2 separate regions of the Homo sapiens genome follow, and region 2 is linked to region 1. Evidence: fine-mapped expression QTL. A gene starts in region 1. The other region holds a variant in brackets. All regions are shown on one strand. Distances are between the middles of the regions.

The links.
Region 2: its variant is fine-mapped to the expression of LIX1 in putamen (GTEx, PIP above 0.99). The same link has a PIP of 0.9 or more in anterior cingulate cortex, caudate, cerebellar hemisphere and prefrontal cortex.

Annotation. Positions count from the first base shown.
Region 1 is chr5:97,141,262-97,144,176 of GRCh38, reverse strand. LIX1 (limb and CNS expressed 1) reads left to right here and starts at 1,566. Exons shown (of 6, transcript NM_153234.5): 1 at 1,566-1,682. The coding sequence starts at 1,601. RefSeq lists an enhancer at 1,550-1,619.
Region 2 is chr5:97,100,241-97,103,155 of GRCh38, reverse strand. All of the region lies in intron 4 of LIX1 (limb and CNS expressed 1), which reads left to right. LIX1-AS1 (LIX1 and RIOK2 antisense RNA 1) reads right to left here. Exons shown (of 8, transcript NR_187470.1): 6 at 1,024-1,397; 7 at 62-130. Among named protein-coding and RNA genes, the nearest start is that of LIX1-AS1, 28 kb to the right of the region's middle. The variant C/T (reference allele first, on the strand shown) is at 1,398.

The sequences.
Region 1 (2,915 bases):
AGGACCGTTTGAGACTGAGAAGTCAAGGCTGCAGTGAGCCCGGATCATGCCATTGCACTCCAGCCTGCATGACAAAGTGAGACTCTGTCTCAAAAAAAAAAAAAAAAAAGGATACAGCTAGGGACTAAATTAAGCCTTGCATTTGAATTCAGGAGCCACTCTTCTGGAAGCCAAGGCTTGTTACCCCCCACAACCCTCCCAAATTTTAGTCACTTCTATTGGGCAGGGGCAAGTAAAACCTGACAGACTGTCTTACAGCTTGCCTGGGAACATTTGTTTCCCTATTTACCCTTCAAAGTGAATCATTCCCAAGGTTGACTTTAATTAATTCTGATGTAATTCACTTCCTTTCACTTAATAATTATTAAAAATTTCAGGGCAGGGTGCAGTGGCTCACGCCTGTAATCGCAGCACTTTGGGGGCCCAGACAGGATGATTGCTTGAGCCCAGGAGTTTGAGACCAGCCTGGGCAACACAGTGAGACCCCATCTCTACAGAAAATTTAAAAATTAGCCAGGCGTGGTGGCGTGTGCCTCCCAACTACTTGGGGTGCTGAGATGGGAAGATTGCTTGAGTCCAGGGCTCAAGCCCCTCACTTGAGTCAAGGCTGCGGTGAGTTATGATCACGCCACTGCACTCCAGCCTGGAGGACAGTATGAGACCCTATTAAAAAGAAAAATAAAACAAAGAAACAGGACGAGAAAATACATATATGTTTCTTAAGGTAGTTATTGAAAGATTTTTTTAAAAAATTGAGACAGGGTCTTACTTTGTCACCAAGGCTGGAGTGCAGTGGCACAATCTGGGCTCACTGCAGCCTCGACTTTCCAGGCTCAAACCATCCTCCTGCCTTAGCCCTCCAAGTAGCTGGGATCACAGGCATGCACCACCACACCCAGCTAATTTTTGTATTTTTTGTAGAGTTAGGGTTTCGCCATGTTGCCCAGGCTGGTCTGGAACTCTTGGGCTCAAGCGATCTGCCCGCCTCAGCCTCCCAAAGTGCTGGAATTACAGGCATGATAAACTGCACCCAGCCCCATAATCTTTATAGCACTCCTTTACCAAAGAAGAATTACACTGAAAATTTAGATTTATAGGGATTATACTGTTAACATATAGCTGGCAGTCCTGAGCTGGAAGCTGTCTTGTCATTCAGGAAATTTCCTGGAGAAATAACCTTCCTGATTCCATATTCCTGGGGGCAACACAATTGAAGATGGAGGGCCAGAAGAAATACTCAAGTCAGAAAGCTGCACAGCATTCAGACAAAATCTGGTTGGAGAGGAAAGCTGTTTTCATAATTTAGCGAGCTTCCCCAGCTAGCCTGTAGGTGGGTGTGTTTAACAGAAGAAAGCAATGGGAACCCGCCTGTCAGCCAGCCTTTCGAGCTAATTAGCTCAGCATACAACAAAGATAAGTGAGCCTGGGAAGAGGGCCCCCTGAGGGGTCTTTAGATTCTGGGAAATGTCTGATTGGCAGATGTTAAAAGGGATTCCTTGGTAATCCAGTGCATCAATGAGCTGCAGAAATTCAGCCCAGGACTGCAAGAATTCAGGCATGAGGACACTCTGTACAGGAGGCTCACACAGGCAGACCCAAGATGGACAGAACCTTGGAATCTCTGAGACACATCATTGCCCAAGTCTTGCCTCACAGAGATCCGGCTCTAGTCTTCAAAGACTGTAAGTACTGAAGGGGGAAAAGTTTTTTGACTTTTTAGAAAATAGTCCTAAACGTCAAGTCACATCCTATTTAAGTAAGATTTCTCCTAAATCTCTGCAGTCGTATGCTGTGTTCTAAGTGATATTTTAACTTGTTCCTGACTTCAGCCAGAAGAACGATTTCATTTCACCTACAGGCATTAGGCACTGGGTTATTCTGTCAGTGATACATCTTGCTAACTACTTAGAAGTCTCTTCTACAATCCAAGACCTGCCTAAGACTTAATGAACTTTTTCTGATGCTTTTTAAGTAAAGCAAAGCTGACTGGTGTTGAGATTAAACCTAAAAATAATTTGGAAATGATACTAGAATATATCAATATTTGTTAACCTGTTTAATACTCCACAACACATATTAGCTATGTTAATTCAAGTATCGTGTTTGTCTGAAAATATTTGTTGCAAACCAGAATTAACAGTAAATCACCACTGAACTTTTAAATTTTGATAACAGATTATAATGCTTTAGTTAAAAGGCCAATAAAATGAGATGCCTCCTAACCTCAGCAACACTCCCTGTGTGGACCCCCTACCACCATCACCAATTTATACAGCATGGCAAAGTTATTTCAAAATCTTTTTTTTAATGATTTAAAAATAATTCAATCAAGATTTCCAATTCTAGCAATACTATTAAACCATTTGTCATATAACTTCGTTTCTGGAACCAATTTGATTTCCTGCTGCTGCAAAACAGACTATCTTCATGTTGTATCTTATCTACAGTGGGTTTCATATTACAAAGGGCTTCTGAAATAGAACTGCCCAAAAGGTAAAATGCATATGGAATTTTTTTTAACTTCAATAGGTTGCAGCTTTCCTCTTTGTGAATCTAGTTGTGTTTGTCTCCATCAAAACATCAATGGTTTGAATTTTTGCTTTCTGATTGCTGAATAACGTTCCATTCCAGATGTCCTCTTAGCTTAGATTTCTCATATGTATGTTGAAGAAAGAGGAATGTTAGGCCATTTAATTCTATAAATTTTTCCTCTTAGATGTTAAATTGTAACCAATCTGTCCTTTAAGGCATAAAGTGAAAGCCTTTTCTTTCTCTAGCTCTCTTTTTAAATATTGTCTTTAGGCATTTGCCAATAACTATGTTAGATCTAATAAAAATCACTCTCTCCACTACTCTAGCCTGGAGTCTATTCAGGTTTGTTATGTTTTTTAAGCGAAAAGGGGAGGAAAGAATGT
Region 2 (2,915 bases), 41 kb after region 1:
ACTTTTAAAAAGAGGTATTTTTTCAAGAGAAAGAATATAAACTTTAAAAAGTCATACAGACCTATGTGTGAAGTCTGCTCTACCACTTGCCATCTGTGAGCTTGTCCATTCTGAGACTCAGTTTTCTCATCTATAAAATAGGAATAATAATGCCCATTTTGTAGAATTTTTGCGGGATTTAAGTAGTGTAACATTTATAAAGCATCTGGCATAATGCTTCCCCTAAGCAGGAATTTCATTTAATTCCTGTTCCCCCTCCAAATAATATTGTAGTTCTTTTATTATGGAATGAACATTGCCTGCCCCAGTACACAGTAGCTTGTATGTGATTTAGCGCTATTTTTGGAAAAATTAAGAATGATTTTGAATGTGATTGGTTTAGTCTGCCAAAGATGGGGGAAGGTGAGATTTAAAAAAAAAAAAAAAGTCTTAAAATTCCTTCCAAGTACTATGAAAGGCTCTACTCAACCTTCTTTTAGTAATAGTTTAATTGCTTTGCATAGGCTATGTGTTTTCTGTGTGGTCTGTAGTAAGGTATTTAAATTTGTGAAATAATAATTTGAATCTTACTGTGGACATGCTTCATAAATTCTCCTAAAGGAGTCTGGATACAGGATGGAGACAAAGGAAGAGGAAGATGTGAGGGCAGGGAAAATCCAAACTCCCTTCCCTAGTAGGGATACTGGCAACCCAGGAGGAGGGCCTATGGAGCGCATCCCTTTTCCTTCCACCAGCCCTAGCTTGCCTGCTGGGACCTGGCACATTCCTTAGTGGCCTGGGTTAAATGCTTCTGCTTGTGTCTACACATAATGGGAATTGCCCACAGACCTGGGCTGTTTCTGCAGCCAACACAGCAATTCAGTACCCCTGGTGGGTAATAGATGTGTGTTTGTATCTAGCTATGGATGACTCTACCATATAAAAACAAGCTGGTGTCTCCAGACTGCCCTCGGGCTTTCGGGGCGGGGTGGGGGGGCGTCCTGCAGCCAGCACTCAGAGGAAACATGATAGGCCTCTGCTTACCTTCACTTCGTGGGAGGGAAGCCTGGATGCCTGTTTCGAGGTAGCTTTGCCACAGAGAAAATTGCCTGCTGTTGGTGGGGAAGGTTCGGAGCAGCACTAGTCACTGGGTCTTGTCAGGGTCAGATTCTAGGCAGACTTTGACTGAAGCTGGTTAATATATTTATTCTGAAGCCTAATGCAATCCAAGGAAGAGTTGTTTATTTACATCTTTGCTAAATTTTCCAGGTCGCCTTTTAAAACTTCATCCCATAAACAAATTTCCTCTTAAATCCATTCTCTTGGGTGGGGAGATGGTGCCCACCTCTTTTTCAAGTTCTCCATTTACAGTGTTTGTTTTTCTTATTTCTGATGAATCACAGAGCCAAACCCGTCTC[C/T]TAGAAAGAGTTCCAAAGAGAAGCAGTGAGCATTTTCTCTCCACAAGTAGCTGAAAAGCCCAACATTGTTTCTAACAGAGGCAACCCCAGGAAAGGCTGTGAGGACAGAGCCCCGTTGTTGTCTGTTTACATGAAATGAATGACAAAATAAACCAGGAAAGCTGTAGAGTGAGAGCTGCAACTGAAATTTTCCCCGAAGAGGAAAGAAAACACACAGCTTGATTCTTCGTTCTATATTAAATTTACTCCGCTGGTCAGGACCAGCTAGATAATTTGCCAGGCCCAGTGCAAAATGAAAATCCAGGGGCCCTTGTTCAAAAATTACCAAGAATTTCAAGATAGCAGAGCACTAAACAAAGCAGGGGCCCTGTACAGCTGCACAGACCTCATGCCCATGAAGCTGGGCTTGCCCCTGAGACAGAGCCACAAGAAGGGGACAGACAAGGGCTAGGCAAGTGACACATTTCTCTTGGGTACAAAATTGAAAGGGATGCTTAAAAACTTCATAATCAAGATAAATAATATTATAATGCATTATTTTTTAAACTCAAAATTCATGCCAAAAATTCACGATAAACAAAATATCAGAATTATAAATAAAAGACCATGAACATGTATAATTGGCCCCACTCACTTTAAACCTTGCCTCACCTGCCTCACCTGCCTCACCTGCCTCACCTTATGAGGCTAACTTGTTTTTCTGTTGGTGCAGCTGGGCCCCTCAGGCTTCCAGATTACCCCACAAACAAAACACCACACCCCAAAAGACTTCCGTGAGGACTATGACAGACCCTCACAGGAAAAGACAACACTAATTTCCTTTATTTAAAAAAAAATTTATATATATTCTTTTTTTTTTTTTTTTCTGAGACAGAGGTCTTACTATTTCGCCCAGGCTGGGCACAAACTCATGATCTTCCTGCCTCAGCCTCCCAAGTAGCTGGGACATTCCACAGCACCTGACTACACTAACTTCCTTTAGAGTAACAGAGCTTCTCCAGGTAGAATATGAGCCAGCGAACACCAGGCAGCAAAGAATCATGGGGAAACTAGTAAGCAGAACTCCACAGCAGCCCTCTCCTTCCCACTCTGCAATCATGCAAGGATTTCCAATGGAATCAGTCAGAGGCATGCAAAGATTTCCTGGAGTTGAGCCAAGAGCTAATAGTTTTGGGAAAATGTGAAGAGAGTGAATTTGGTCTTATGAGGGGAAATAAAGAAGTGAGACAAAAAATATGTGAAAATATTTAAATATACTTTATATAATGATGGCAAGATGAATATCTCTACAGAGGACAAAAACTAGATGGGGATATAATGTAAGAAGTTGGAAAGGAGGTCATCTTCCCTAGGGAATGTTAAGAACAAAAGCAACACTGAGGAAGTGGCAGTTGTGTTACTGGAGAGAAAAAAAAAGCTGCTTCGTGATGGGATAGAAATTTAGACAAACCAGAGGTGGTGAGGAGGTTGACCTTCATCCTGGAGACGAAAGCAGTTCAAGTCTCTTTGGGGACATTT